Regions from separate parts of the Homo sapiens genome. Here region 1 is linked to region 2. A link means that fine-mapping ties the variant in region 2 to the expression of a gene that starts in the linked region. Tissue or cell type: whole blood. Region 2 holds a variant in brackets; the other region holds the start of a gene. Each region is shown on its reference strand, or each on the opposite one.

The links. PIP is the estimated chance that this variant, and not a neighbour inherited with it, causes the effect. A credible set is the group of variants that fine-mapping cannot tell apart.
Region 1: it holds the start of MAPRE3, and the variant in region 2 is the best candidate, but not a certain one, in a credible set for the expression of MAPRE3 in whole blood (TOPMed, PIP 0.62).

What each region holds. Positions count from the first base shown.
Region 1 is chr2:26,962,317-26,977,842 of GRCh38, forward strand. MAPRE3 (microtubule associated protein RP/EB family member 3) reads left to right here and starts at 8,321. Exons shown (of 7, transcript NM_012326.4): 1 at 8,321-8,486. LOC124905979 (a long non-coding RNA gene) reads right to left here and starts at 2,756. Exons shown (of 3, transcript XR_007086251.1): 1 at 2,683-2,756. RefSeq lists a silencer at 8,206-8,535.
Region 2 is chr4:56,896,300-56,911,825 of GRCh38, forward strand. It overlaps REST (RE1 silencing transcription factor), which reads left to right and starts at 11,601. Exons shown (of 4, transcript NM_005612.5): 1 at 11,601-11,914; 2 at 14,331-15,237. The coding sequence starts at 14,340. RefSeq lists enhancers at 11,058-11,987, 12,918-13,847 and silencers at 11,084-11,378, 11,478-11,867, 11,978-12,827. The variant T/C (reference allele first, on the strand shown) is at 7,359.

The DNA of each region.
Region 1 (15,526 bases), not on the chromosome of region 2:
CTGTAGTCCCAGCTACTCGGGAGACTGAGGCAGGAGAATGGCGTGAACCCGGGAGGCGGAGCTTGCAGTGAGCCGAGATCGTGCCACTGCACTCCAGCCTGGGCGACTGAGCAAGATTCCATCCCATAAAAAAAAAACAAAACAAAACAAAAAAAACAGAATGCCCAGTTAAATGTAAATTTCAGATAAAAAATAATTTTTTAGTTTATGTCCGAATAATGTCTGTGTCATACTTATGCTAAAAATTATTTTTTGTTTTTTTGAAATTCAAATTTAACTAAAGTGTCTTGTCTTTATGTGGCAATTCTAGTTTAGGTTTATTTACAGGAGTTCTCCACCTTCTGTCTAATCCATGCTTATAGAACATCTACCAGGCATGTGTGAGACATGACAACAGGAAGCAAGTGTAGCTCCTGCATTTAGAGGTGAGTTTGAAAAAAGACATGTTGACACACAAGAAAATGTAGGAAGCATGGGATAGTGGAAGAAGTCTGGATTTTGGTGTTGACTTTAAGTTCAAGCTCCACTTCTGATGTTCACTAGCTGTGTTATCTTAGGTAAGTTATTAACCTCTCTGGGCCTCTGTTGTTTATGTGTGGAAATAAGAATAATACCAACCTCTGGCTGGGCGTGGTGGCTCACACCTGTAATCCCAGCACTTTGGGAGGCCGAGGCAGGTGGATCACCTGAGGTCAGGTGTTCAAGACCAGCCTGGCCAATATGGTGAAACCTCTTCTCTACAAAAAAATACAAAAATTAGCCGGGTGTGGTGGTGGGCGCCTGTAATCCCAGCTACTCGGGAGTTTGAGGCAGGAGAATAGCTTGAACCCAGGAGGCAGAGGTTGCAGTGAGCCGAGATCGCACCACTGCACTCTAGCCTGGGCAACAGAGCAAGACTCCATCTCAAAAAATAAAAAAAGGAAGGAATAATACTAACCTCAGAAGGTGACCAAGGAGGTTATAAGAAATTGTATGTATCTCATGCCTGGCTGCCATAGGATCTGAATATATGCTAGTTTTATAAAATAACTACCAGGCCAGGCACGGTGGCTCACGCCTGTAATCCCGCACTTTGAGAGGCCAAGGAGGGCAGATCACCTGAAGCCAGGAGTTCGAGACCAGCCTGACTAACATGGTGAAACCCCGTCTCTACTATTTTTGTAAAAATACAAAAAAGCCGGGCATGGTGGCATGCGCCTGTAATCCCAGCTACTAAGGAGGCTGAGGCAGGAGAATCGCTTGAAGCTAGGAGGCGGAGGTTGCAGTGAGCTGAGATGGTGCCATTGCACTCCATCCTGAGCGACAGAATGAGACTCTGTCTCAAATAATAATAATAATAATAATAATAATAATATATAATTATCATGAGAAAGAGACAACTAAAAGTGTCAGCCATGGTAACAATTAACTTTACCTCCTTTGGGAGACTGTCTACAATGAATGTAACACTTCACTTTTATTTTATTATATTATTATTATTATTATTTGAGATGGGGTCTCACTGTGTTGAACAGGTTGGTCTTAAACTCCTGACCTCAAGCGATCCTCCAATCTCAGCCTCCCAAAATGCTGGGATTACAGGCGTAAGCTGCTGCACCTGGCCCACACTTCACTTTTAAATAGAAATAATAGCTAATACCATGTATTGAATGCCCACACCATTGCCCTAAGTATCTAATAAACATGATCTCATTTAATCCTTATATTAACTCTCCAAGGTATTTACTATTATTGTCCCCAATTTACAGATGGAGAAACTGAGTTAAATAGCTTGCCACAGAGCAAGTAAGTGGTAGATTTAGTGTGTTCACTCGAGTCCAACTCCCCAACCAATGTTCCTAACCTCTATCTTACACTACCTTTGCATGGATTGGCCCTTGAAGTTTGAGTTGGTGACCACTATGAAGAGAAGCACAGATTGTGGCTACAGAGCATCTGGAACAGCAGATGGAGATGCAGAAGCTGGGAGGGGTGAAAGAATAGTTCTGGGGCCCTGAGTTGCTCGGCATTCTGGAAACAGCAGGTCATTAATGTTCACAGGTGTGTCTTAAGACCTTTGCAAGTTCTCAGTTTCCACACTAGCTTCTATATAGAAGGTATAACTGGGGCGGAGAGGGGGGATCAAGTAGTGATCCTACTGAATGACCCTTACGAAAGTTTTGTTAGTGTTGATAGTCACCATTTATTGGATATTTATCCATCAGGCAGTGCCAGGCATTTTTCACACATTATCTCATTTAACCATCACAACTACAGATGAGAAAAACCAAGGCCAAGGTCACATAGCTAGGAAGTGTTGGACCCAGTGCTTGTGTAACTCCAGCAGGGAGGAGGGTTGATGCACTCTCTAAATAAGGGCTCATTCATTTCAAGGCATGTAATTAAAATTCATTCCTCAGCAAAATTGTGTATGACTTACATAGGTCTCTTGTAAACATTCAAAACCATGTCAAAGGTTTCCTGTATTGTGGGAATCAGTCTTATTTCAGTGCCCTGTTCCACTTCTAGCTAGTTTCAAATGAATAATGAATGCAGTTGGTAACAATTACCAACTTTACAGCACCTTCCTGTCTCCACCTCACAGCCGGGGCAGGGCAGGCTTGCTTGCTCCAATCTAAACTCTAGCCCCGCAACTCACAGAGTTAATCCACCCTCTTAGACTCCTCTGGTTTGCCCACTTACCTTGGGGAAAGTGCAGAAGGATCAGATTTTTTTCAACTTGCTTGGGTGATTTTACTCCAAGATGTTAAGAATGCAAAGTACAAGGTGCTAAGAATACAAAGGTAGATAAGATATGGTCTTTGAGTGTGAGGCCCTCCTATGGGGAAACATGGGGATAAGCATAATAACTGAAGGCAAAGGGGAACCATAACAAAGAATGGACCCGGTACCAAGGAGAAAGAGCAAGTAGGGGCCGGACGCGGTGGCTCACGCCTGTAATCCCAGCACTTTGGGAGGCTGAGGCGGGAGGATCACGAGGTCAGGAGTTTAAGACCATCCTAACCAATATGGTGAAAGCCCATCTCTACCAAAAATATAAAAATTAGCCGGGCGTGGTGGTGCACACCTGTAGTCCCAGCTACTCGGGAGGCTGAAGCAGGAGAATCGCTCGAACCCAGGAGGTGGAGGTTGCAGTGAGCCAAGATTGTGCCACTGCACTCCAGCCTGGGCGACAGAGCGAGACTCTGTCTCAAAAAGAAAAAAGAAAAAAGAAAGAGCAAGTCGGTTCTCTGGGGGAGGCCCATGACCATGCCACCAAGTTGGTGACACAAAAGCTGGTCTTGGAGAATGAGTCCAAGTTTGCCTGATGAAGGGAAAGGAAGGGCAACCCTGCAAGGCAGGCTCAGCCACAAAACAAAACCACTTGCTTGGCCAACTGCAAGAACTATAAAAGTTGGAGTAGGGGATAGGGTACAAAAGGAGTAGAAGGTGAAGGGGAAATGGTTGGTAGGGGCCAGATTGTAGTAGAGCTTGTCCACCATGTGAAGATGTCTGAAGTTTTATATCCTTTAAGCCAATGTTTCTCAAACTTTTCCACTTAAAGTACCCCAAGGCAGTGGATAACACAGGCATGGGAATAGAGGGCAGCCCATGTTGAGCTCAAACTCTCTTTAAAGGTCTTGTCTTTGAAATCATGTGATTCTTATATTCTACTCCATCTTATGTCTGTTTGTTTTAATATAAAAATGTTTACCTTAATAAATAAATAAAAATACATTTAAAATTAAAATAAGATAAATATTTTCTGAATCTCTAAATAAAATTTAAAGATTACGTTTAAAGATGTATTTATTATAAATAAAATTCAAGAGGTCAGGCCTGGTGGCTGACACCTGTTATCCAGTGTTTTTCGAGACCCAGACAGGAGGGTCGCTTGAGCCCAGGAGTTCAAGGGTGCAGTGAGCCATGATCACACCACTGCACTCCAGCCTGGGCAACAGAGCAAGACCCTACTTCAAAAAAACAAATGAGGGCCAGGCACAGTGGCTCGTGCCTGTAATCCCAGCACTTTGGGAGGCCAAGGTGGGAGGATAACTTGAGGTCAGGAATTCGAGACCAGCCTGGCCAACATGGTGAAACCCCATCTCTACCAAAAAATACAAAAATTAGCTGGGCGTGGTGGCTCACACATGTAGTCACAGTTACTTGGGAGGCTGAGGTGGGAAAATTGCTTGAACTCGGGAGGCAGAGGCTGCAGTGAGCCAAGATCGCACCACTGCATGACAGCCTGGGTCAAAAAAAAAAAAAAAATGAGGAAGATAATCTATTCTATATTTCTTCCGCCCTGTTTCCTTACATGAATCCCCCATCCCGGAAGTTGCTTCAGCAGGTCTGAGGACAGCCATAGGGATTTAAGCAGGATAGTTATGTGATAAGATTTATTTCTAGAAAGAGCCTTCTGACAATGGTGTAAAGAATGGATTGGAGATGAGAGAGGCTGAAGGCAGAGAGAGCAGGCGGGAAGCTCTGCAGTAACCCAGGCAAGAGATGGTAAAGGTGAAGCAGATAAAGAAGGGAAGAGTTTTGAGAGGCATTTAAGAAGTGGAGGCCAGGCACGGTGGCTCACGCCTGTAATCCTAGCACTTTGGGAGGCCAAGGTGGGTGGATCACTTGAGCTTGGGAGTTCTAGACCAGCTGGGAAACATGGTGAAACCCTGTCTCTACTAAAAACACAAAAATTAGCTGGCATGTGCCACATGCCTATGGTCTCAGCTATGTAGGAGGCTGAGGTGGGAGGATCACTGGAGCTCAGGAAGTCTAGGCTACAGTGAGCTATGATCACACCACTGCACTCCAGCCTGGGTGACAGAGCAAGACCCTGTCTCAAAGACAACAACAACAAGTGGAATTAGGGTCAGGCCCTGGGCTTACATCTGTAATCCCAACACTTTGGGAGGCCAAGGCTGGAGGATTGCTTGAGCCCAGGAGTTTGAGACCAGGCTGGGCAGCATAGCGAGACCTCATCTCTACAAAAAAAAAGAATCTAAAAGAAAATTAGCCAGGTGTGGTGGCACACCCCTGTGGTCCCAGCTACTTGGGAAGCTGAGGTGGGAGGATTGTTTGAGCCCAGCATGTCAAGGCTGTAGGTGAGCCGTGATCACGCCACTGTACTCCAGCTTGGGCAACAGAGCAAGACCCTGTCTTAAACAAACAAACAAGCTAAAGAAGTGGAATTAACAGTATTAGAAAACTGTCCTGGGGCTGGGTGTGGTGGGTGGCTCAAGCCATTAATCCCAGCACTTTGGGAGGCCGAGGCAGGTGGATCACATGAAGTCAGGAGTTTGAGACCAGCCTGGCCAACATGGCGAAATCCTGTCTCTACTAAAAATACAAAAATTAGCCAGGTGTGGTGGTGCATGCCTGTAGTTCCAGCTACTCGGGAGGCTGAGGCGTGAGAATCGTTTGAACTTGGGAGGTGGAAGTTGCAGTGAGCTGAGATCGTGCCACTGCACTCCAGCCTGGGTGACAGAGCAAGACTCTGGCCCAAAATAATAATAACAATAACAATAATAATAATTTGCAAATCATATATTATCTGATAAGGGATTTATATCCAGAATATATAGAGAAATCCTAAAACTCAACAACAATAAACAAACGGTCCGATTCAAAAATGGACAAAGGACTTGACTAGACATTCGTGCAAAGAAATTACACAAATGATCTATAAGCACTAAGACAACATAAAAAGTCGTCCAGCAAGCACCCTGCTGTTTAAGTTTCAGCCACCTTCTGACTCACACCTTGAGCTAGAACCATCCAACTGCGGGCTTTCTGAATTCCCATCCCACAGAAATAGAGATAACGAAATGGTTGTTGCTTTAAACCACTGAATTGGAGTGATTCATTTTGTAGCAATAGTTAATGGCACATAGTAAAATGTTAATATGTAGAGAATCTGGGTGAAGGGTATATAGGAACTCTTTGTAGAATGGTCCTCTACCTTGTGTATGACAAAGGGGTGGGGTTACAAGGATCATAGCTTCTTCTCAGGATTACTCAGGACAGTCTACACCACCCAAGTCTATACCTGTAACAATGAAGCTGAGCTGGAACTTCAGAATGGGAAAGCAAGATAAACTGAGCGTGCGACTTCCCTATTGCCTTGGTGACACCCAGATACCCTGCAGATGCAGTTAGAAACAGCTCCAGTTGTCCAACTCTGTGGCTAGAAAAAAGTGTAGCCTGGGTTTTTACTCTCCTAACCCCTTGATTTGTTTTGGGAATTATTGTCTACAAAGAGCTCTCTCCTTTCTGATAATTGCTTTAGGTGGAAGAAGAGAGGATATGCTGTGTCCCCTCTCTTTTCTTACTTACTCTATTTGTAACTTTCTTCTTTTTTCCCCAAGAAAATGGGCTTAGTTGGGGTGCTTTGGCACCAATAGTCCTGCGGCGGAATCTGTGGGAGCTAGACAGGGAGATTTGGAAGAGAATGCTAGGTTGTGAGCTCTTGCTTTTGAGTTGTTTGAAGAGAATGCTGCATCTCTGGCATGTCAACAAGCCCAGCAGAATCCAGTAACGTTCACCAAGAAGGCTTGATTAGAGCTGGTTAGGGGATGATCAGGATGGTTAGGTGTGAAGAGCTTACGCTGATTATGGAGGGTATGGGAGTCACGGGGTTGGTACCCAGTGAGGAAATTTACCTTAGTAGAAACATTTGGGATAGTGTAGAAGAGAGAAGAGCTAGAGGCGAGGATTCAGGAAATAGAGAATGCCAGAGTCTCAATTAACAGGATGGAAAGCTAAGGAGATGAAAGACTTATAATAGTAGCATAGTACTAAAAGACAAACTATGTGTAAAGGTATTAGAAATGGGGACTGGGACTCTGAGGCAGTTAGGCCAGAGAAAAGAAGAAGGAAAAGATTTGTCTTCATTTGATTCAATTACATAAGCATTTCTCAGAATCTGCTATGTGTCACATGCTGTGGTGGATGCTGAGGGAGCTGATGAAAAAGACAGAATTCCTGCCCACCAGGGTCACATAGTCTGGAGACACAGACACGTAAACAAATGACGATAGTGTAAGGTGTGTGTAAGAAAGGAGGAATGTACAGGGTTGGTACAAAGGTGACCTCAAGGCATCCATGGGAATCAGGGCTGAGGGAGGAAGAGCCAGAAGACATCAGCACAAAGAGAACCAAGATGCTGAAGTCACAGGGGGAAAGAACATACTGGAGCCCCGGGCAGAGCAGTGCTGGACAAGGACAGCAAGTGTGGAGAGGAAAGGGAGATCCAGAAGAACCGAGGAGATCCATAACAGCATGCTTGGAGGAGGAAATTCGGGAAAACGAATGGACATGTCAGAGGGAGCTAGTTATGAGGAAGTGGACTGCAAACCAGATAGTGAGCAAGATGAAGAAATGAGGTGTTTATCCTTGCAATGGGAGAGAGACAATAAGGCTGACAAAAACTCAAGTGGTCTGTGGATAGACGATTTCGTTAGCTCGATTTAAGGGTAAAGGGCACACTCTCTGGTAGGAGATGAAAGGGGATGTTTAAAACAGGTAGAAAAAAATTGGGCCGGGCGCGGTGTCTCACGCCTGTAATCCCACCACTTTGGGAAGCCGAGGCAGGTGGATCACCTGAGGTTAGGAGTTCGAGACCAGCCTGGCCGACATGATGAAACCCCTGTCTCTACTAATAATACAAAAACTTTGCCAGGCATTGTGGCGCACGCCTGTAATCCCAGCTACTCGGGAGGCTGAGGCAGGAGAATTGCTTGAACCCAGGAGGCAGAGGTTGCAGTGAGCCAAGATCGCGCCAGTGCACTCTAGCCTGGGCGACAAGAGTGAAACTCCGTCCCAAAAAAAAAGAAAAAAAAATGAATTTGGGAATTAGAGAAAAAGACTGTGATTGGAACCCACACACCAAGAGAGGAGATAAAACCCAGCCTTAGCTCTTCCATGTCGCTGAAAGAGAAGAAAACGTCTCTTTTTCCTTTTCCGTAGCCATAAAAGATGAAAATCCGTCATCCAGCTACTGAAATCAGGTGCACACGGTTGTTCCTCCTGTGATGAGACAGGGCGGAGGGATTGTTACCCTGTTGCCAGGGAAAAAGGAAGGGGCTGTTCCCAGTTGCTATGGTGACGAGGTAGGCGCGTTCCCTCGGTACCGCCGCACACGTCTGAAGCGGTCTCTTCTCCTCGTTGCTACGGCAACGCAGTGGGCCTGTTCCTGTCGCCCCCCGCCTCCCGCCGCAATCGCTAAGGCAAGGTGGAGGTAGGGGCTGTCCTCCCGCGGCTCAGTTGCCTTGGAGACGGCGGGTGCCCTGGCCCCGCCCCGCTCGGACTGACAGCGGCGGCCGCATCGCGCCTGCGCAGTGCCCTCGTCCCCCGCAGTCTCTGTGCGTTGAAGCCGGAGACCGCGGCGGCCTCAGCGAGGACCCTCCGCCCCGGAGCCGCCGGCCGGAGCCGCAGCCTCTGCCGCAGCGCCCCCGCCACCTGTCCCCTCCCCCTCCGCCTCCGCCGGAGCCGCCTCGTGCACTGTGAGTCCGGGCCGAGGCGACGGACGCCGTGGGGCTGAGTCAGCGGGAGGCCAGGGCCCGGGCTGGGGGAGGGGAACCGGGCTCCCCCCGCCCCTGCCTCCCCACCCGCACTCCCGCATCCCGACCGCGCCTTCCCCGCGCCGGTCAACCCCCTCCATCCCTGTCGCCGGGTTCCCTCCGGCCTTGGCGGCCCGGCCTCCCCAGCCACTCCCCCTCCCCTTCCCTCCCCTCCCCTTCCCTCCGTCTCTCCGGGTCCACCTTGAGGCTCCTTCCCCACTAGACGTGGCCACCGCACCTCTGCCCTGGGCTGATATTTTCTCCAAACTACCTCCCGTCCGCCCTTATCCCTTCTCCCTCCTCCTCACTCCTCCTAGGCCTGACATCTCCCGGCCTCTCTGGATCTCCCCAGTGATGTGCCAGAAAAAGAGTGACAGGAGAGCGAGGGGAGACTTGGGGGAGGGGGAACATCGGGCCAGGCCCAGCCTGGGGGCCTCGGGTTTCTTCCCCACACGCTCCTGCCTGGCTGGTTTGGGGAAGCAGGTCTGGACAGTTCTCACTGGCTGCTCAGAGCTTGCAGGGCTTTCCGAATAGATTTGGCTGGGAAGGGTTCAGCCCCATCGTGATCATCTAGCGTTTAATGAACGCGGCTAGTGCCTGGTGGCCTTCTAGTGGGCTGAGCTACTGCCCGGCCGGTGTTGCGGAGCGGGGAGTAGAAGTAGTGGAGGGAAGGGAGAAGAGGTTGCGTTTGGGAGCTCCAAGTTCCTGCGCTTCCGGTGTGGTGTTGTGAATAAGCATCTTGCGGAACTCTTTAAAATGCTTTTTTTTTTTTTTAAATCGCACTACAACCCTGGTATAATGTGAGGTTTGGAAAAAGGCCTGATACCATCCATAGGAAGTGCTTACTGTTTATATATGAAGGGGCTGTGGCAGGACTTGATCTTGGATTCCTGTAAATTAACTAATTGGATAGTAGTGAGTTTTTAACATAACGTGTGCAGAGTTGAGAGGAAGGAGAAAAATCGAAGCTTCTCCATGGTGTAGGTGTGAGGCCTGTACACTGTGCCTCCTCCAGCTGTGTGTCTTTGTGGGGCTGTCACCAGATAGGGGTTCTAGCATATTTGGACAATTCCCTGGGTTATGTTTGCTACCCCTCCACCTGCCCATCTTGCAGTCCCTGTTCTTGGAATAGAAGAGGGTCCCAAACAGTTTTCTTTTTCCAGAAGAACTGAGTTGAAGTCAGAGTTAGTGCCCAGAGCCAGAAACTCTTAATAAACATGTCTCAACTTGAGGGCCCCTAACTACTATATGACCTCATTGTCAGCTTCTTTTTTATTTGGCTTCCAAATTTCAGTGTGCTTTTAGAAAGCACGTGTAAATATAAGCCAGATCTACCGCACAAGAGGCTTTGGGATTTTTACTCCAGATGGTAAAAGGAACGCATGGTCCATTTCTAAAAATCATGGTGAAGGAGCCACTCATTTGGAGTTTCCGGGGTTGCAAACAATGAGAAATAACTATTTCACTCTTTACTTTGCTCAATCATGGCCTATTGGCAGCCTCCTCATAGCCACTCCCTGCCCCCATGCCCATCAGATTAGTTTACAGTAGCCAAGACGGCTGTCGCCCTAGTTTTAAACATAGAGATGAAGTTCAGGAAAACTATAGCCCCCATCCAGCAGGGCAGTTTCTTCTGTTTCGAATGCCAGACTGGGGTTTGGTGGGATGCACCTGCCTGTGGTGCAGTGGGAACTGTGGGGCCTGAGAGTGGCATTCCTTCTGTGTGGTCCTGTGTCACATAGCTCACCAAAATACCCGAGCAGGGCAGGAGCAGACAGCTGTACTGGAGAGCTGCTCCTCCTGGGCTGAGTGTATTTTGGGAATCAGCGATATTACTGGGGTGGAGGGTTGTGAATTAAGGAGGAAGAAAATGTGTCAAGGCTAGATAGATCAGGAGGGTGTAAGTAAAATGTTCCTTTCCAGTTTGCTATGGGATAGTACATTTTCAGAGGATCAGAGTAGTTTTTATATGGATTAATTTGCCTTTGAAATCCATACCAGTGTTTTATGAGATAATGATGGAATGCCTTTTAAACTGCTACTATGAGGAAACAGGACTAATACTTGTCTTATACATTGCCTATCCAGCTGTTGCTGAATGTAATTGTTAAGATCAAGGAGAGGGACATGATTTGAACCAAGTTAGACCTAAATCTATGTAATGGTATTGAGGTTTTGTAGGACTGTATTCTTGATTCTAAGACACACCAGCAATTTACCAATAGCTTTTAGGTAAAATAATCTAATGCTACCAGATCAAAATATATATGCTGATTCCAAGGTGCATCCTCATTTTAGAAACATTAAAACCCTCGGGAAATGGCAAGACTTGAGGGAGGGATTTGTGAATCTTGGAACTGAGAAAGAATGCTATTGATAGTATTCCTGTGTGATGATGCCGTTTCTGACCTACCGTCCTGAGAGTGCATGCATTGTGAAGCTGAGTTTCTTCTAGTCCTTCCTGCACGCCAGCACACATTGTGGGGTTGTATTTGTAAGATGACTGGCTGGAGTTAGGCATAGTAGGAGGCTATTGAACGGAGGAAAGTTCCCATATGAGAATCCAACCCAGGGTCTTAATGTGGTACTCTCCAGAAACTGAGCCAACTAACTGGCAGCAAACGTCTTATGAGCTATTCCTGAATTTAGCCGAGTAACATTTGTCAGAAGCCGAACAGAAAATATAGTTTTTTTTTTTTTTTTTTTGAGACGGAGTCTCGCTCTGTCGCCCAGGCCGGACTGCGGACTGCAGTGGCGCAATCTCGGCTCACTGCAAGCTCCGCTTCCCGGGGTTCACGCCATTCTCCTGCCTCAGCCTCCCGAGTAGCTGGGACTACAGGCGCCCGCCACCGCGCCCGGCTAATTTTTTGTATTTTTAGTAGAGACGGGGTTTCACCTTGTTAGCCAGGATGGTCTCCATCTCCTGACCTCATGATCCACCCGCCTCGGCCTCCCAAAGTGCTGGGACTACAGGCGTGAGCCACCGCGCCTGGCCAGAAAATATAGTTTTTTAAAACAGAATGCATCTGCCCTGATTTGCTTACAGATACATTTGTAAAGGTCCCAAGGCACATGTCTCCCTCGCTTAGGATGTTAGCACTGGAGGTGACCCCAGATGGTATAGTTTAATGCCCTCATTTCTAAAGTTGACACAAGACACCAAGAGTTAAATGACTTACCTAAGGTCACCCAACCCATGCAGAACGTATGTAAAAACACTTTGTAAACTGTGTACACTAGGCAGATGAATGTTGGTGGTTATTAGTGGCTGAGTCAGGATTAGATCTCCAGATTTCCAGACTAGAGTTATTCTTCAACACCACATTGCCTCATCCCTCATAATGTTCCAAAGGGTTTTAATAAAAATAATTTAGTAGTCCGTAATTAGCCCTGTAGGCAAGGGCTTGTTTTGTCATCTGAGATGCTGCACAGCCAGGCAAAATTTTGTGTCAAACTGTCTAACTAAATATTTATTCTTGCCACTTTAAAAATAATATTTTTTATCACACATTCTGACTTCAGGAAGGTCTTTCTTTTTTTAATTTGCATCAACTAACAGAAAAGCAAATGTGAAGTTGGGTATTTGAAGTCTTTTCTACTTCTTATCTGTGAGACTGCCGCATTCCAGAAAGCAAGGTGGAGAGGCAGATGGGGCTGAGAGGAGGAGCGTGCACATTGGGCAGCTGCGGGCTTATCTTCCACCTCTCAGAATGGAACCTTTTGTAGTTTCTGGGAGCCATAAGGACTTCTAAACCCTCTCCTTGGGAAGCGCGGAGGCAGCCTGACCTCTGGAAGCAGGCAGACTTGAGTTCAGATCCCCATCCAGCCATCTCCTGGCTGTGTGGCCTTGGGTGAGTTATGTTACCTCTGAATGCCAGTTTCCTCATTTATAACCCTGGAATAATAACTATCTGTTTTACAGGGTTGTTGTGAAGATTAAATGAAAGGGAGTATGTAGAGTGCTTGCTTCATAAGAAATAGCAATGATTATTTTATATTGACTAAAGCATAAAATAGCAAATAATGGTTTCAAAATTGTTTCGTGATTTAGGTCCATCTTGGACTCTCAGTTTTGTAGCCCCCATCTCTCAGCACCCCTCTCGGTATTTGACACGAACAGAGAAAAGGTTTGTACCGGGAAGACCCGGCACTTGCATTATTATTTCAACTGCCAAAACCGGAGTATATGAAATGTATCTTTGCTCCATGTATTCAGCCAACCTGAAAGACTGGCAGGACAGGAGCATTTGACTTTAGGAGGCACAGATGTGGTGTGCTTGGGTGTGTGGTGGGGGTGGCTAGTTCTCCAGCAGGGAGGCCAGTCTGGGGAGTGGTCTTCATTTGAAATAGAAAAGCTGCTGAGCTCTTGCTTGTGAGGGACACACATGTGGTCTTTATTGACTTCCTCAACTGGTAGAGGCATAGATTTCATCGGTGACTTTGCTAAAATCAGCTTCTGCATCCGTGAGATCCAGGGGGCAAGGGAAAGGAGCTATTCATCTTAAGAGGGAAACCTTGCCAGTGAGCAGAGGTAAAGGGAGGTCATTTTGGATGGAGAGAATTACAGACTGGCTCAAGGCAGAAACTACTGAGTAATTAAAGAACCAGGGCAAGCTGTTCAGGTGCAAGAGCAAAAGTGAATTTAAATTCCTAGATAAATTTCAGTAGGGAAGGAAATACCCATGTATAGACATCTAAAGATTGAAAAGAAACGCAATAATGTTTACCTCTGGGAGGTGGGATTTGGGTGTGGGGAAGGGAAAAGGAGACTCAAAGGGGAACTTTTACTTTATATGTTTTTGTATTTGACTTGTTATAAGAAGCATGTATGCTTTAGTCATTTAATGAAGACCAAATAGAATGGGTAGTGATTGTTGTTCAGTAAATACATTTTGGTACAAAAGAAGCAGCTGCCTTTACTTGGAGCCTCCCATGCCTGGGGCAAATAGGGTTTGACAGCTTCAAGCAGGCCCAGGCAGTTTGCACCAAATCAAGCTCTTAAGTGAGGGCAGGACCCTCCAAAGTGGCTGCTTCCCGGTCAGCCCAGGGTACTTAACTGACCACCTACCCCATCAACTCTTCCTAGTCTTTTCACTCCCCTCTTGAGAATAGTCCCCTCCATCTGTTGACCAGCTAAAATAATCATAATTATTCTAATAAGCTAATTTTCAGCTATTGATGAAAATGGCATCTGACTATATGACCTTCATGAAAAATTCCTGCCTCTTAGTTAATGTCAAGAGGGCTTGAAGTTTAAAGGGACCCAAGCTGAAATGCTGGCACACTGTGTAGCTAAGTTCTAGGTCAGACCTGGCTGGTACAGCACATCTTTCACATAATGACTGATTAACTGCTTCTGGTAGGAATTACTGGTAAACTCTGATAAAATCCTTAAGGATTGTTCAGCTTTTAATTTTGTCGTAAGTTGGCCAGCTGTATTTTCTAGCCAGATGTCATGTTTATTATAGAAAGATGACACACCTATCATTTGGACATGTGCTTTGGGTTGCTTACCCAGGAGTTAGGATGGGTTATGCTGAGTAATTCACATTCCATCACCCAGTCTTCCCTTTGGCCAAGAGTACAATTTCGTGTGACAGTTAGCCAAGTTTCGTGAAGCATGCTGTGGCCACGGATGGTTTTTCTTGTGCACAGAGTTGACTGGCCAATACTAGCATAAGCCTAGATCTTGCACTCACTAGCACCATGCCCTACCAGCTTTGCTAAACTGACCAGATGTTGTTAGTCAACTTTTTAGCATAACGTCAGTGTTTTAGGCTCTGGATGCTTCATTTGCCTCAAGTAAATAAGGACTTGTCCTATCTAAAATGCTTTAACTCCATGCAAAATGATTTTTTCCCTGAAACTATTTCCTAGATATAGGAGATACATACCACTTGTGTGATACATTTAAAATAACTGAGCAAGAAGCATGGCTTCAAATCTGCCTTGTAGCTTGACTATATATAAAAAAGCTTAAAAGGATGTATATCCTTAGACCAGAAAGTGCCATTCTAGCAATATTTAGAAAATCAGAGGTGTGTACAGAAATAATTGTAAAAGATTTATTAATGCAACATTACTAGTAATATCAAACATTGAAAACAACCAAAAGTGCCAGCAACTGAGGATTGGTCAGGCTCGCCCAAATAAAATACTGCATGGCATTAAAAACATTTGGAGAAGAATATTAATACCAGAACTTTTAATATCAGTGAAAAAAGCAGGATGAAAAATAGTATGCCAAGGAAAAAACCATATTTATAAAGAAAAACATGAAAAAGATACTAGAAGAGCATGTGCCAAGTCATAAGTGATTGAGTAATGGGATTAAAAACGAATGGCTTTCCTTAGTGCTTGTTGGTGTTTTCTAAGCTTTTCTGCATTAAGCAACTATAACTTAATTATGACATTTTAAAACCAGTGACTTCTAGATTCCATGTAGTAGAGCAATCTTTAGAGTCTTCTTTGCCTCTTCCTTTTACTGTTTACATGTATCGGAAGGTTTTAGTAAAACCTTGTATACCACAGGGCTCTGTTTTGGGTGGCCTTCTTTTCCCAGGTGTCTTTTCAGATTCTCTGTATTCCCAGTTCTCCAGTGTTCCAGGGGCCTTTTTTGAGGGTTTTGCTCATTTTTTGGTGTGGATGTGCACCTGTCTGAATTGTCTGTTTCAAAAGACTCTGCCCAGGCCCACTACAGTTGCCTTCCTCCCTTTGCCCTTTGTCACCTTCCGTTCAGCCATGAGCTCAGAGGCCCTTTTTCCTTCCAGGGATAGAGAGGGTTGGGTGCCCACCTGTGGCCACCCGATGGGCAGAGCCCTATGTAGACATAGGCTAGGCCACTCCCCCTGTGCCACACCAGGTCCATGGAGCTGCTGACTGTGTTGGTAGGGCCTGGCCGGGCAGCTGTCCTCTGGCCTCATCTTTCCCATCCACACACACACACTGTACATTGCCTAGATGGCCCAGTCCAGTGGACTGAT
Region 2 (15,526 bases):
CCAGCTACTTGGGAGGCTGAGGCAGGAGAATCGTGTGAACCCGAGAGGTGGAGGTTGCAGTGAGCCAAGATCGTGCCACTGCACTCCAGCCTAGGTAACAGAGCGAGATTCTGTCTCAAAAAAAACAAAACAGAACAAAACAAAAACTTGACATTTATCTAAGCCATGAAAAATCTGAGTGAACTATCCTTGTCCTAAACCTACATTATGCATCTCTGTCTACCAGATTCAGTGTCTCAATAATCGTTAGACAATTTTAGGTGAATAGTGTCCAATTTTTCTTTTTTTTCTTTTTTGAGACAGAGTTTCTCTCTTGTCGCCCAGGCTGCAGTGCAGTGGTGCGGTCTGGGCTCACTGCAACCTCTGCCTCCTGGGTTCAAGTGATTCTCCTGCCTCAGCCTCCCAAGTAGCTGGAATTACAGGCACTCACCACAATGCCCAGCTAATTTTTGTATTTTTTAGTAGAGATGGGGTTTCACCATGTTGGCAAGGCTGGTCTTGAACTCCTGATCTCAAGTGATGCACCCGCCTCTGCCTCCCAAAGTGGTGGGATTATAGGTGTGAGCCACTGCGCCTGGCCTAATAATGCTCAATGTTTCACCTTCTTTTTTGTCTTTATAGATTACATGCAGACTAGCTTCTTATGGAAATACGTTATTTCTTCTTAGTATAATCCAGGAATTTAGACTTCAACTTCATCCCAATTCTTGCACTTCATTAGTTTACAGTTTGTCTGTGACATCCATGCTTATGATTGGATTGTAGTGCTATTGGTTGTGCTTTGCTGAGAGACTTGATCCCTGCTGTTTTTTTTTTTTTTTTGAGACGGAGTCTCACTCTGTTGCCCAGGCTGGAGTGCAGTGGCGAGATCTGGGCTCACTGCAGCCTCCACCTCCCGGGGTCAATCGATTTTCCTACCTCAGCCTCCTGAGTAGCTGGGACTACAGGCGCCCTCCACCATGCCTGGCTAATTTTTGTATTTTTAGTAGAGACAGGGTTTCACCATACTGGACAGGCTGGTCTTGAAGTCCAGACTTCGTGATCCGCCTGCCTCAGCCTCCCAAAGTGCTGGGATTACAGGCATGAACCACTATGCCCAGCCTTTTTTTTTTGAAACAGAGTCTCACTCTGTCGCCATGCTGGAGTGCAGTGGCACAATCTCGGGGAGATTACAGTTGTGAGCCACTGTGCCTGGCCAGATCCCTGCTTTTTAAATACCTCTTTGGAGCAAGCCACACCCATATGTAAAAGGGTGTCTGTACCCCATTGATCCTGTGCACTTCATCTTCAGTATTCTTTTGCTCCAACTCCGGCTGGTGTGCCATCTTGGTTTAGCTGTTTTTCCTGCATTGATTCTTCTGCCTTTTCATCTTTCACGAGGATCAGTTACCCTGCCTTTCATGGACTGACACATTAGGGATGACCTTAAGGTAACTGATCTCTGTACTTTGGACTCTCCCCATGTAAACTGTGCCATGGCTGCATCGTTTCTGGCAAAACAAACTCCACCTCCTCCTTGAAGCTTGCTCAAGACTACTAGCTGGAAGCAAATTCTTCAAACTCTAAAAGCTCTTACTGACTGTGCTTTTACTAAAGCAGGATATATTTTATTTCCTCAACTAGATAATAAGCTGGTGAAAGTCAAAACCCATTTTATACTTCTCTACCCACCTCCTAGCCCCACACCACCCTTGCACCTTAAACAGAGAAGGTGCTGAATAAATACCTGCTGGGCCGGGCGCGGTGGCTCACGCCTGTAATCCCACCACTTTGGGAGGCCGAGGCGGGCGGATCACGAGATCAGGAGATCGAGACCATCCTGGATAACACGGTGAAACCTCGTCTCTACTGAAAATACGAAAAATTAGCCGGGCGTGGTGGCGGACGCCTGTAGTCCCAGCTACTCAGGAAGCTGAGGCAGGAGAATGGCGTGAACCCAGGAGGCGGAGCTTGCAGTGAGCCGAGATCGTGCCACTGCACTCCAGCCTGGGCGACAGAGTGAGACTCCTTCTCAAAAAAAAAAAAAAAAAAAAAAATACCAGCTGGATAAATAGGGTTAAGGATAGGAAGTGACTTTTTAGTATAAATTAATAGAGACTGTATCAGGAGGAAAGACATTCTCAGATATAACATTTTATGAAAGGATTTTGAACACTTTACCAAAACAATGCATATACCTGAAACACTCACACAAAAACTAGTATCTATTGTTTATAGTTTTGTGTTTATTTATTTATTTATTTTCATTTATTTTATTTTTTTTTGAGACAGAGTCTTGCTCCGTGGCCCAAGCTGGAGTGCAGTGGCGCGATCTCGGCTCACTGCAAGCTCTGCCTCCTGGGTTCAAGCGATTCTTCTGCCTCAGTCTCCCGAGTAGCTGGGACTACAGGCACGGGCCACCATGCCCAGCTAATTTTTGTATTTTTAGTAGAGATGGGGTTTCAGCATGTTTGCCAGGCTGGTCTCAAACTCCTGACCCCGTGATCTGCCCACCTCGGCCTCCCAAAGTGCTGGGATTATAGGTGTGAGCCACGGCACCTGGCCTGTTTATTTATTTTTTGAGACAGAGTGTTACTCTGTTGCCCAGACTGAAGTGCAGTGGTGTGATGTCAGCTCACTGCAACCTCCACCTCCTGGATTCAAGCAATTCTTGTGCCTCAGCCTCCTGAATAGCTGGGACCACAGGCCCGTGCTATCATGCCCGGCTAATTTTTGTATTTTTTGTAGAGATGGGGTTTCACCGTGTTGGCCAGGCTGGTCTCAAATTCCTGGCCTCAAGTTACGCACCTGCCTCAGCCTCCCAGTGTGCTGGGATTACAGGCATGAGCCACTGCACCTGGCCTATAGTTCTATTTATTAAAAGTCAGGTTTATTGGGGTATAATTTGTATTCAGTAAAATTTACCCTTGTAAGTAGTTCAGGTTCTTTTTTTTTTTGAGATGGAGTTTCGCCCTTGTTGCCACCACGCCCGGTAGAGATGAGGTTTCTCCATGTTGGTCAGGCTGGTCTTGAACTCCCCACCTCGCCCATCTCGGCCTCCCAAAGTGCTGGGATTACAGGCATGAGCTACCTCGCCTGGCTGTAAGTAGTTTAGTTTTACAAATTTTGAGAAATGTATATAGTTGTGTAGCCATCACCACAGTTGAGATGTTGATTATTACATCACCCCGCTGGCAGAGTGGTGCATGCCTGTAATCCCAGCTACTTGAGGGGCTGAGGGAGAAGGATCTCTTGAGTCCAGGAGTTTGAGGCTGCAGTGAGCTATGATTATGCCACTGCACTCTGGCCTGGGCAACAGAGCGAAACCCTGTCTCTGAATAAATAAATAAATAAGTAAATACAACAATTATGTCACCCCCCAAAATTCCTTTGTGCCCTTTGTAGTCAATCCTCTTCCTTTACCACCAGCCCACGGCAACCACTGATTTGTTTCCATAGCTTGCCTTTCCCTGAATGGTATACACATGGAATTATGAGGTAAGTGGCCTTTTGCATCTGGCTTCTTTCCCTTAGCATAATGCTTTCGAGACTCATCTATGTGGTTGCATGTATCTGTAGTTACTTTATTTTATTATTGAATGAGTCCGGAATACACAGCTGTGGCATAAAAATTATTTTGAGTAGAAGGCCATCTGAGTTCTTGAAATCTCTTATATCCCTGAAAGCAGAGCCTCCCAAAAGAATTCAGTTTTTGTAAATCCCTTCCCAGCAAAGCAACCAGGGACAATTGACTCTTATCACCACTAATGAGAAGTCACTTTCAACCAAGCAAGGTTTGAAGAAAAACAAAAGAAGAGAGAGAAGTCTGCACACCACATCTAAAAGGCATTGTTACAAAACTATCATATCTCCCATCTATTCTCCTAAAGCCCATTTGTCTTTCCAAAAAGTCATTTGTTTTCTCCTAAGTGCCCTTTTCCCTCTCTCCTTCCTCTATTAAGTTGGTATATAGGCCCAGATTCCAACTGCCCCGTGAATCACATTTTTTGATCAAATCTTTTATGTACATTTAATATATGATTAATTGTGTCTTTTCTGGGCTGGGAGCAGTGGCTCATGCCTGTAATCTCAGCACTTTGGGAGGCTGAGGCGGGCAGATAACCTGAGGTCAGGAGTTCAAGACCAGCTTGGCCAACATGGTGAAAGGCTCTCTACTAAAAATGCAAAAATTAGCTGGGTATGGTGCCGGGTGCCTGTAATCTCAGCTACTCCAGAGGCTGAGGCATGAGAATCACTTGAACCTAGGAGGAGGAGGTTGCAGTAGACTGAAATCGCGCCATTGTACTCCAGCCTTGGGGATAGAGAGACTCTGTCTCAAAAAAAAAAAAAAATTTGTCTTTTATGTTGCCAGTATGTCTTTTGTCAATTTGATTTGCATGCCGCCAATGATTAAACCTAAGAGGATAGGCCGGGAGCGGTGGCTCACGCCTGTAATCCCAGCACTTTGGGAGGCTGAGACAATGGGTGGATCGCCTGAGGTCTGGAGTTCGAGACCAGCCTGACCAACATCGAGAAACCCCGTCTCTACTAAAAATACAAAATTAGCCAGGTGTGGTGGCGTGTGCCTGTAATCCCAGCTACTCGGGAGGCTGAGGCAGGCAAATCGATTGAACCCGCAAGTGGAGATGCGGAGGTTGTGGTGAGCCAAGATCATGCCGTTGCATTTCAACCTGGGCAACAAGAGCAAAACTTCATCTCAAAAAACACAAAAAACACAAAAATTAGCTGGGCGTGGTGGTGTGCGCCTGTAGTCCCAGCTACTCAGGAGGCTGAGGCAGAAGAATCGCTTGAACATGGGAGGCAGAGGTTGTAGTGAACCAAGATCGCACCACTACACTCCAGCCTGGGTGACAGAGTGAGATTCTGTCTCAAAAAAAAAAAAAAAAAAAACAACCTAAGAGGATAGAGGAAAAGTTTTTCCTCCCCAACAATATCATTCTATTGAATGGGTAGATACAAATTTGCTTTTCATTCACAGTCTAGACTACTTTTAGGTTGTTTCTAGTTGTTAGACACCTCCCATTTGGGTCTTTAGGTACCACAGGTTTTCAGTTCTCTTGTGTAAATATCTAGGAATGTGATGACTGGATTATATGCTAAGTGTCTATAAGAAAATTCAAGTTTGCAAAAGTGTTGCATTTCCAAAGTTGTTAACAACAGTTTGCATTTCCATCAGCAATATTAGAGTCATAGGCTAGGCAGGCGGTTCACTCCTATAGTCCCAGCACTTTGGGAGGCCAAGGTGGGAGCATCACTTGAGCCCAGGAGTTCAAGACCAGCCTGAAAAATAGTGAGACTATGTCTCCACAAAAAAGAAATTTTAAAAAATTAGCTGGGTGTGGTAGGTCGTACATGTAGTCCCAGCTACTCGGGATGCTGAAGGGGGAGGATCGCTTGAGTCCAGGAGGCAGAGGTTTCAGTGAGCTGAGATCATGACACTGCACTCCAGCCTGGGTGATGCAGCAAGATCCTGTCTCAAGAGAGAAGAGGGAGAGAGAGGAAAAGAGAGAGAGAATTCCAGGTGCTCAGTATCTTTGTCGCATTGTTTTTTTTTTTTTTTTTTTTTGAGACGGCGTCTCGCTCTGTCGCCCAGACTGGAGTGCAGTGGTGCAATCTTGGCTCACTGCAACCTCCGTTTCCCAGGTTCACGCCATTCTCCTGCCTCAGACTCCCAAATGGCTGGGACTACAGGTGCCCACTAACACGCCTGGCTAATTTTTTGGTACTTTTTAGTAGAGACAGGGTTTCACCGTGTTAACCAGGAAGGTCTCGATCTCCTGACCTCGTGATCTGCCCGCCTCGCCCTCCCAAACTACTGGGATTACAGGTGGGAGCCACTGTGCCCGGCTGTAAAGTGCTGTGTTTCGATCTCAGCTTGCTACAACCTCCACCCCCTGGGCTCAAGTGATCTTCCCACCTCAGCCTCCCGAGTAGCTGAGATCACAGGTGCACACCACCACACCTAACTTTTTGTATTTTTGGTAGAGACAGGGTTTTGCCATGATGCCCAGGCTGGTTTTGAACTTCTGACCTCAAGTGATCTGCGCCCCTTGGCCTCCCAAAGTGCTGGAATTATAGGCATGAGAACCGCACCCAGCCCTTGTTGCATTTTATACTTAGCTTTTTAAACTTTTAGCCATTCTAGTAGGTTTAGTGATAATTTTTAGACAAACAAGGAAAATGTACAGGTTCATTAATCTAGGAAACATTTATGCATAAAGCCAGTGCCTGGCTTTAGCTTTGGGTTGATACACTTTGCCAGAAGTTTGATTTTATTTACTGTGTCAGGAATATCAGCATGTTGAGAACACACAACACAGTTTCTTGTCTCTAGACCCTCTCAGACAGATGAGAAAGACATGGGAAAGAAAACAGGCGCAAGAGTATACTTATGGCACTTTAGGAGTTCATGTGGGAAGGTTTTAACCTCTCCTTGGGAAGAAGGGAAAGGTTGCCAGAAGTTGTCTTCTGAGTCAAGTCCATATTCCTCTAAATTGATGATTAGCTTTGTAAATTAACATGTCAATGTTGGCTCTTGAGTGTTTTAAATGCCATGGAAGACAATAAGGGCTTCTGCTTCCCAAGCCAGAAGGTAATAAATCTTTTTTTTTTTTTTTCGAGACGTGGTCTTGCTGTGTCACCCAGCTGGAGTGCAGTGGTGTGATCCTGGCTCACTGCAGCCCCAATCTCCTGCACTCAAGCAATCCTCCTACCTCAGCCTCCCAAGTAGCTGGGACTACAGGCACACCTCACCACACCAGCTATTTTTAAAAAATTATTTTTACTAGAGATGAGGTCGCACTGTGTTGCCCAGGCTGGTCTCGAACTCTTGGGCTCAAGTGATCTTTCCACTTCGGGCTCCCTAAGTGCTGGGATTACAGGCGTGAACCACTGGGCCTGGCCCAGAAGGTAATTAATCTTAATATAAAAAGTAGGCTTCAGAGTTATGGAATTGCGGATCTGAAAAGTCCCCCTATCTCAAATATATACATCTCTAAAGCCATTGTACATAGTGGCCCATCAGGCCCCAAAGATTAAAAGATGTTTTCGGGAATAGGGCCAGGGTAGAGCAGAAAGAAGACTGGACAAAGTGTCTGAGAGACATGGAAAGAGCACCGGACTGGCTGGAAATTGAGTCATGGGTCCTACCTCCATCTGTGCCCTAACTACTTGTGCAAACCTGGACAAGCCAAAAGCTTGTAGGCCTGTCTCCTTTTACATATAAAACAAGAGCCTGCACCTCTAAGATCTCTTGCATTTGTGACATTTTGTGGCCTACATAACATTTGGAGGGAGAATTCTGGAAGGAAGGACAATGGTAAAGGCCAGAGAAGAGAGAGGCAGAGCAATGCAGTTGA[T/C]AGGCTATGTAACTTGTATTTAAACCCATCAAATGGAACGATACCTAAGGTTGAAACATTTTTTTTTTTTTTTGAGATGGAGTTCTGTTCTTGTTGCCCAGGCTGGAGTGCACTGGCACGATCTCTGCTCACGCAACCTCCGCCTCCCAGGTTCAAGCCATTCTCCCGCCTCAGCCTCTTAAGTAGCTGGGATTACAGGCGTGTGCCACCATGCCCAGCTCATTTTGTATTTTTAGTAGAGACAGGGTTTCTCTATGTTGGTCAGGCTGGTCTAGAACTCTCGACTTCAGGTGATCTGCCTGCCTCAGCCTCCCAAAGTGCTGGGATTACAGGCGTGAGCCACCGCACCTGGCCAAAACAGATTGTTAATGATCACCAAGGAATATCCAACCAGAGGCTGATGCGTGAAATCAGGAATGTGCTAGGAATACAATATGCAGAAGAGCAGGCAGGGAGATTTTCACCAGGAGGGTAGAACCCCAAGACCAGGGATCCAGGAGCATTAATTTATTTAACAGTAGTTATTAGGGAGATTCAAGGAGGCAGGCTCATGCTTAACATGAGGGAAGACTGTGATGGGTACTGAACGTTGGGTACCGACATGGGTAAGGATGGTCCCCACTTTGAGAGATTGTGATACCAAGCTAGGATTTTGTAACCATTCATCTAACTAATATTTGTTGAGCAACTAACGAGTTATAGGTGCTGGGGATAAAAAAATGTCTCTGCCTTTCTGGAGCTTAAGTTCCTAAGTAGGGTAAATAAATAAAAATACCTAGCATGTTAGTAATAAATGTTAGAGACAGAAACAGCAGGGAAGGGCATTAGGATTGGACGAAAATGGGAGCAGAAACAGCAGGGAAGGGCATTAGGATTGGACGAAAATGGGAGCGGGTTCCAAATGTGATCTAGGCTCCAAAAGAAGGCAGGAAGGAGCCCAGCTCAAGTCTCAAGTTCTCTTGTTCACCTCCTTCCCTTCTCAGCATGAAGGGAAAACCTCCCTGGCTCAAGCTGTTGATGCCTATAATGAGTAAGACACTATTCCAGTTATCAGAACCAGAACAAGAGGTCAGAGTCCAACCGGCAGCAAGAGTAGATGATGCTGGCTGGACTCGGTGGCTTACACAGGTAATCCCAGCACTTTGGGAGGCCGAGGCGGGTGGATCACCTCAGGTCAGGAGTTCGAGACTAGCCTGACCAACATAGTGAAACCCCATCTCTACTAAAATACAAAAATTAGCTGGGCGTCCTAGCGGGTGCCTGTAATCTCAGCTACTCGGGAGGCTGAGGCAGGAGAATTGCTTGAACCCAGGAGGCAGAGGTTCCAGTGAGCCAAGATCTTGCCACTGCATTCTAGCCTGGGCGACAGAGCAAGACTCCCAGGCGGGGTGGCTCACACCTGTAATCCTAGCACTTTGGGAGGCCCAGGCAGGTGGATCATCTGAGGTCAAGAGTTCAAGACCAGCCTGGCCAACATGGTGAAACACCATCTCTACTAAAAATACAAAAATTAGCCAGACAAGGTGGCACGTGCCTGTAATCCTAGCTACTCGGGAGGCTGAGGCAGGAGAATCACTTGAACCCGGGAGGTGGAGGTTGCAGTGAGCCGAGATCGCACCTTTGCATTCCAGCCTGGGTGACAGAGCAAGACTCCATGTCAAAAAAAAAAATAATATATATATATATATATAATTGGCCAGGTGTGGTGGCTCACGCCTGTAATCCCAGAACTTTGGGAAGCCGAGGCAGGCGGATCACCTGAGGTTGGGAGTTCGAGACCAGCCTGACCAACATGGAGAAACCCCCGTCTCTAACTAAAAATACAAAATTAGCTTGGCGTGGTGGCACATGCCTGTAATCCCAGCTACTCGGGAGGCTGAGGCAGGAGAATTGCTTGAACCCGGGAGGCGGAGGTTGCGGTGAGCCGAGATCGTGCTATTGCACTCCAGCCTGGGCAAAAAGAGCCAAATTCTGTCTCAAAAAAAAAAAAAAAAAAAAAAAGAAAGAAATCTCTCTAGAGAAAATACTATTAAGAACATATGATAATTAAAATAAAAAAATTGATGAGTTAAATATGCAGGAAAAAAACCATATAAGAAAAGCAGAACTCATTCTCATTTCAGAGTTTTTATCTTGCAGAAGATCCTAAAGTTTGGATACAGCAAAGTAAAATACAGACTTTTGAAAAACAGTTAGGAATTCAAGTTCATAGCAACAGCTTCCCTCAAGAAAATTTTCAATTGATTTGTAATTTGGCCTATGAATTTGACCTGTGGCCTTCATGTCATGATAATTTGGGTCACTCTGAATATGCCATCCCTTGAACAAGGGCCTCTGCTAATTTTAAATGAATGCAGCTGCCCATTCGCCATTCTTCTATTTGCATCACAATATGTGGGAATAAATTTGCAATTAATAAGACATTTCCAGTAAGCAGTCAGATTGAGGAAATGAAGGACATTTAGTAAGTTTAACAAGAGACATTTCATTTTTGCCTTTTTGGACCTAAAAAAGGGAAAGAAAACAAGTTTATGTCTTTGACAACCTTGGTAGAGGCCTGAATTGTACCCTGGGCTACAGCATCTAAAAAAGCCATGTGACCTCAAACTTGATTTTAGTTAAACAAATAAAATATATATAGAAAAGTTTGTACCAGTCCTAAAAATGTCGATCTTCCTTTCCTCCCTCCCTCCCTCCCTTCCTTCCTGTCTCTTTGGTTCAATGAAAATGAATACTTTTCAGGTTTGATTCATGGAGAGGTGTTACATTTGAAATTGCCTCATTGAAACTTTTGGTGGTCGAGCACCTTAGGGTCTTCATTTCATCTTGCATCGGAGACTGCATTAATTAGTAATATATTGTCCAGATAGAGGGAAACAGAGGTCCTACGTGGGTATACCAGGAAATGAAGAGTCTGGAAGCCCTGCCCTAAGAGAAACAAATAAAGGAACTTCAAAGAGAAGGAAGTGAGGTACCCTGAGGAGAAGCTGGGATGTCTTAACAACTGCTTTGGGATTTTGAGCTTGCCCTTTTCACTGTGTAGAGTGTTCCTTGCCCTACTTTCCACCTGTTGAAGTTTTCCTCATTCTCCAAGGTCAGACTGAATACATCTACTGTGAAAAGTTTCTAGAACCTCTTGGGATCCATCTTCCTACTGGCAAACCCCCATAGCACTTGCTACTTATGTTGTAATACCAAGCAATAGTCAGACTTATCTAGGTCAAGTTAAGTAGGGGCTTGAACGCCACACTAAGGGGTTTAAGCTTTAAGCTTGTAGTCATGGGGAGCCACTATGCTTCTGAGGACAGGTGTGACTTACGACTGACGTTTAGGAAGGTATCAAAGGCAGACTGAGAAGCTCTTTCAGGTGTGAAAGGGGGTGGAATTACTCTCTCTCTGTTCTTTTTTGTTGTTTTTGTTTTTGTTAGCACATGACTATGGGCTAGGCATTCCGCTTGGTTATCCCGCTTCATAGACGTGAGCCCGGTTACTCCGACACACCGTGGCCCCAGGCAGCCTCCCCGTCCTCACCACCTTTTCTTCTGTCATCTGAGGGTAATTCCTCCCCTGCAGTCGTGCTTTCCGGGCTCAGCAATGACCTGCTACCTGCCACGTCTAGGGATCTGTCCCCTCAGTCCTCACGCTCACGCTTTCTGAGTCCATAACCTCCTTCCTGAAACGTTTTCTTCTCACTTCTCCCAAACTGACTGCATTCCCCCTCCGGTAGTTTGAAATTTGGAAGACTTTTTTTTTTTTTTTTTTTTTTTACCGCAGACGCTTAAAACGAAGCTTAATTAGTCAAGGACAGCTATGGGTGGAGACTTGAAGAGATCTGAAGGGTATCTTGGAGCGCTTTAGACTTGAGAGGCCGGTGACAATAGCTCTAAAGAGACCCGTCAAAGCCTGCGGATTCTTCTTTTAACAGCTCTATTCTCATGCATGCACGCCAGGGCTGGGGGGAACTTTTGTTGTTTGTTTGTAATAGAAATCGAGAAAGGGAGTGGGGCCCGCCTCTTTTCTGACCTAAGGGCAGGAGTGAGGGGCCGGGAGGATTACGGGCGGCTCCCCCTAGACGCGCCCCCAGGCGAGCTGGAGACTGGGGCACTCCTTGCTTGGTAGAGGGGCGGGGCGCGCCTAGCGGCCACGCGCGCGGGCGTCGGAGGGGGCGTGTCTCGCGGGCGCGCGCGGGCGTCGGAGGGGGCGTGTCCCGCGGGCGGTGGCGGCGGCGGCGGCGCGGACTGGGTGCGCGGCGCAGCGTCCTGTGTTGGAATGTGCGGCTGCCGCGAGCTCGCGGCGCAGCAGCGGAGCGAGCGCCGCCGAGGCCCGGGGCCCCAGACCCTGGCGGCGGCTGCCGCAGCCGAGACGGCAGGGCGAGGCCCGGAGGCCTGAGCACCCTCTGCAGCCCCACTCCTGGGCCTTCTTGGTCCACGACGGCCCCAGCACCCAACTTTACCACCCTCCCCCACCTCTCCCCCGAAACTCCAGCAACAAAGAAAAGTAGTCGGAGAAGGAGCGGCGACTCAGGGTCGCCCGCCCCTCCTCACCGAGGAAGGCCGGTAAGTGGGGCGCTGGGCTGGGGGCTCGGTCAGGGTGGGGGAGGGCCGCCCGGGCGGCGGCAGTGGCGGGACGGGGAGGGCGCGGAAGGACGCGGAGTCAGGCGCTGTCCAGGGCTGATTTGCAGATACTGTGGCTCCGGCGGCGGCGGCCCCGCCGGGCGGGGGCTGGCGGCCGAGCAGGATCGGGTTACACAGCAGCCGCCCGGGGGCTGGGGGCGTTTGTTGGGAGCAGCGCGTCGCCTGGACCCCCTCCCCACTGGAGGCTGGGACGCCGCCTCCGCGCTGGCCCGGACGCTCCACCGAGTCAGGTCCTTTGAGGCCAAGGAGCGGAGCTGCTCGGGCCCGTAGTCCTGAAACTTCCTCTGCTTCCTCCTCCTGCCCCCGGGTCCCACCGCAGCCCCGCGCCGGCCCGCGGCCCTCCTGGCCCCCTCCCCCAGGGCCTCTCCCTGTCGCCGGAAGGCGCCGTTGAGTGCGGCCGGGCGGGTTGAGTCAGCCCCGGGGCCCGGGCGGTTCCGCCTGCGGGGCTGGACAGCGATTTCTGCGCTTCAGCCGTCCGGCGCCGCTGGCCCCCGCGTCCGGCCACCCGACCGCTGGAGCTGGCGGGGCTGGGGCGCGCGTCCTGCCGGGCGCCGTGGGGGAGTGAAGTTCGCAAACTTCCGGGGCGCGGGGGTGGCGGCTGGCCCGTGTGGGGGCCCCCTCCGGCGCTCGGAGCCCGACGCCTCGCGAGGGCGCCCGCGGAGCCTCCCCGGCCCTGGGCGTTGGGCGAGCCCCGGGGCGGTCGGAGGGGCCCGGGGGCGGTCGGAGAAGCCCGGACGCCGGCTGCGCGGTAACTTTCCGTCCTCTCCCGGGACGGGGGCCCTAGGGCTGGGGAGGGGGCTGCCTGGACTCGGGGAGGACTGGTTCCGGCCAAACAGCGCCTCGAGCTTGATCCCCTCCCCCGTTTTAGTGTTGGAGAGCGCAGGAAAAGGCTCAGGACGAGTGTCGGGGCGACTCCCGCGAGTTGGTGTGTAAATGTGTGCAGTGAGCGGGCCGAGGCGAGAGGAAGCGAGAGCGCCCGAGTTTGCAAAGAGCTGCTTTGTGTTTGGTATTTTGAGAAAATGGCCGAATGCCTATTTCAGTTAGGAATGCCGCCGCCGAGGCAGGCGCTGGTGGCAGCAGCACGGAGGAATTCGTGCAGCACGTTGGGCTTTCGGGCTGTGCCTGGACGGTCTTCCTAACAATCGTTAAAATTCCATTTGGGGTGGCAGTTAGGGGTTAGGGAGCAATTAGAAAAGTCGATGTTGGGCCAAATTACCCAATAGCTTGGGCTGTTCAGCCCCGGGACAGCCTTCGCCCTCTGTTTTCTGTGATGGCATTTGCTTCCAACTTTTGTTGGTACGTAGAACTAAACCGGTTTGTGTTTATACACTTGGGTGAAGCGGGTTACTTTTTGTATTTTCGGTTTAACTTTATTTTCTTAGAACTTCTTACTTTTTTTAATTTGCGAGTGAACACTTCGTTTGAGAATGGCACCTTTTAGATTGAGAAGTAACGTAGCATCTAGAAAGCCCAACTTGTTTTGAAGAAGGTGATCTTGTAATGGCTTCCACTAGGCAAGTAGGCCAAGTCAAGCACAATGCAAGAAAGTTGCTGATTGTCGAGTTGAGTTGCACGATGATTTTATTCGTATTGAAAAGCTTGGAATTCAGTGTTGTGGAACTTCAGCCTGCAGAAAAATAAGCTTATTAATTTTTATTTGTGAAGTTTTGAATAAATCAAACTTCCTTTTTCACAAGAAAAGGGGTCCATAAATGTTTTTTCTTTTAAGCCTGTGGAGTTGTCGAAAAATTAAGGGGCTGACTGCTACTTTTTCACAGTAGTTTATTCTTTTGGAGTTAGTTGAGTTCATGCGAAATCCAATTAAGTTGAACAATTATTACAGGCTTGTACTTTCCAGATGTGTTTGTGTACTTAATAAATGCACTGAATGGCTTGTGGATTTCTGGGCTTTCTGATTCAGACCATTGAACTGTTGAAGGGGGGAAAAGTTGGGAGGACAATAATTTACTACTCATGTTTTGAATTTTTAAAATAATTTTAACAGTAAAAATGAAGGTTACTTTTTATCCCCACCAGAACAATTAAAAGTGCTTGAGGAGGCACCACATGCCAGTGGCTGAATGATGAATGAGTTGTGCAAACAATTGGTAGAATTGTTTTATAGGGATAGTAGAAATTTTTTTTTGGTGATTGCAGTAGACTATTGGGAATTAACAACTATTTTAAAGATTTGTTTTTAATAGGCGATGAAGTTTACTGAGTTATAAAGATCATACTGGAAAATTTTTAAGTTATGAAGAATTACAGCGATGTGGTTTTAAGCCAGTAACAGTAGTGTTTAAACTGGTGCTCTTGTTTTGTTTTGTTTTTAATTCAGAATACAGTTATGGCCACCCAGGTAATGGGGCAGTCTTCTGGAGGAGGAGGGCTGTTTACCAGCAGTGGCAACATTGGAATGGCCCTGCCTAACGACATGTATGACTTGCATGACCTTTCCAAAGCTGAACTGGCCGCACCTCAGCTTATTATGCTGGCAAATGTGGCCTTAACTGGGGAAGTAAATGGCAGCTGCTGTGATTACCTGGTCGGTGAAGAAAGACAGATGGCAGAACTGATGCCGGTTGGGGATAACAACTTTTCAGATAGTGAAGAAGGAGAAGGACTTGAAGAGTCTGCTGATATAAAAGGTGAACCTCATGGACTGGAAAACATGGAACTGAGAAGTTTGGAACTCAGCGTCGTAGAACCTCAGCCTGTATTTGAGGCATCAGGTGCTCCAGATATTTACAGTTCAAATAAAGATCTTCCCCCTGAAACACCTGGAGCGGAGGACAAAGGCAAGAGCTCGAAGACCAAACCCTTTCGCTGTAAGCCATGCCAATATGAAGCAGAATCTGAAGAACAGTTTGTGCATCACATCAGAGTTCACAGTGCTAAGAAATTTTTTGTGGAAGAGAGTGCAGAGAAGCAGGCAAAAGCCAGGGAATCTGGCTCTTCCACTGCAGAAGAGGGAGATTTCTCCAAGGGCCCCATTCGCTGTGACCGCTGCGGCTACAATACTAATCGATATGATCACTATACAGCACACCTGAAACACCACACCAGAGCTGGGGATAATGAGCGAGTCTACAAGTGTATCATTTGCACATACACAACAGTGAGCGAGTATCACTGGAGGAAACATTTAAGAAACCATTTTCCAAGGAAAGTATACACATGTGGAAAATGCAACTATTTTTCAGACAGAAAAAACAATTATGTTCAGCATGTTAGAACTCATACAGGTAAGAGAAGCTTTCTAGTCCATAAGTTCAGTTCTCTTTTCTGATTGTTACTTGAGTGGTTAGTTAAGTAGTGCTTGAGAAAAAGGACTCTGGTTCAAATCCAGGTTCCATTTTGCTATCTTTGTGACCTTGCACAAGTTGTTTAACCTCTTTGTTCAGAAATTTCTCCATGGAGTAACAATATCTAGGTTGGGAGGATTATGTGAAGTTACATGTAAAGCACAGAGGAACAGCCAAGAGATCTTACCGTGGTCTTACTAAAGTACATATCCTAACTTGGGGTTTACCT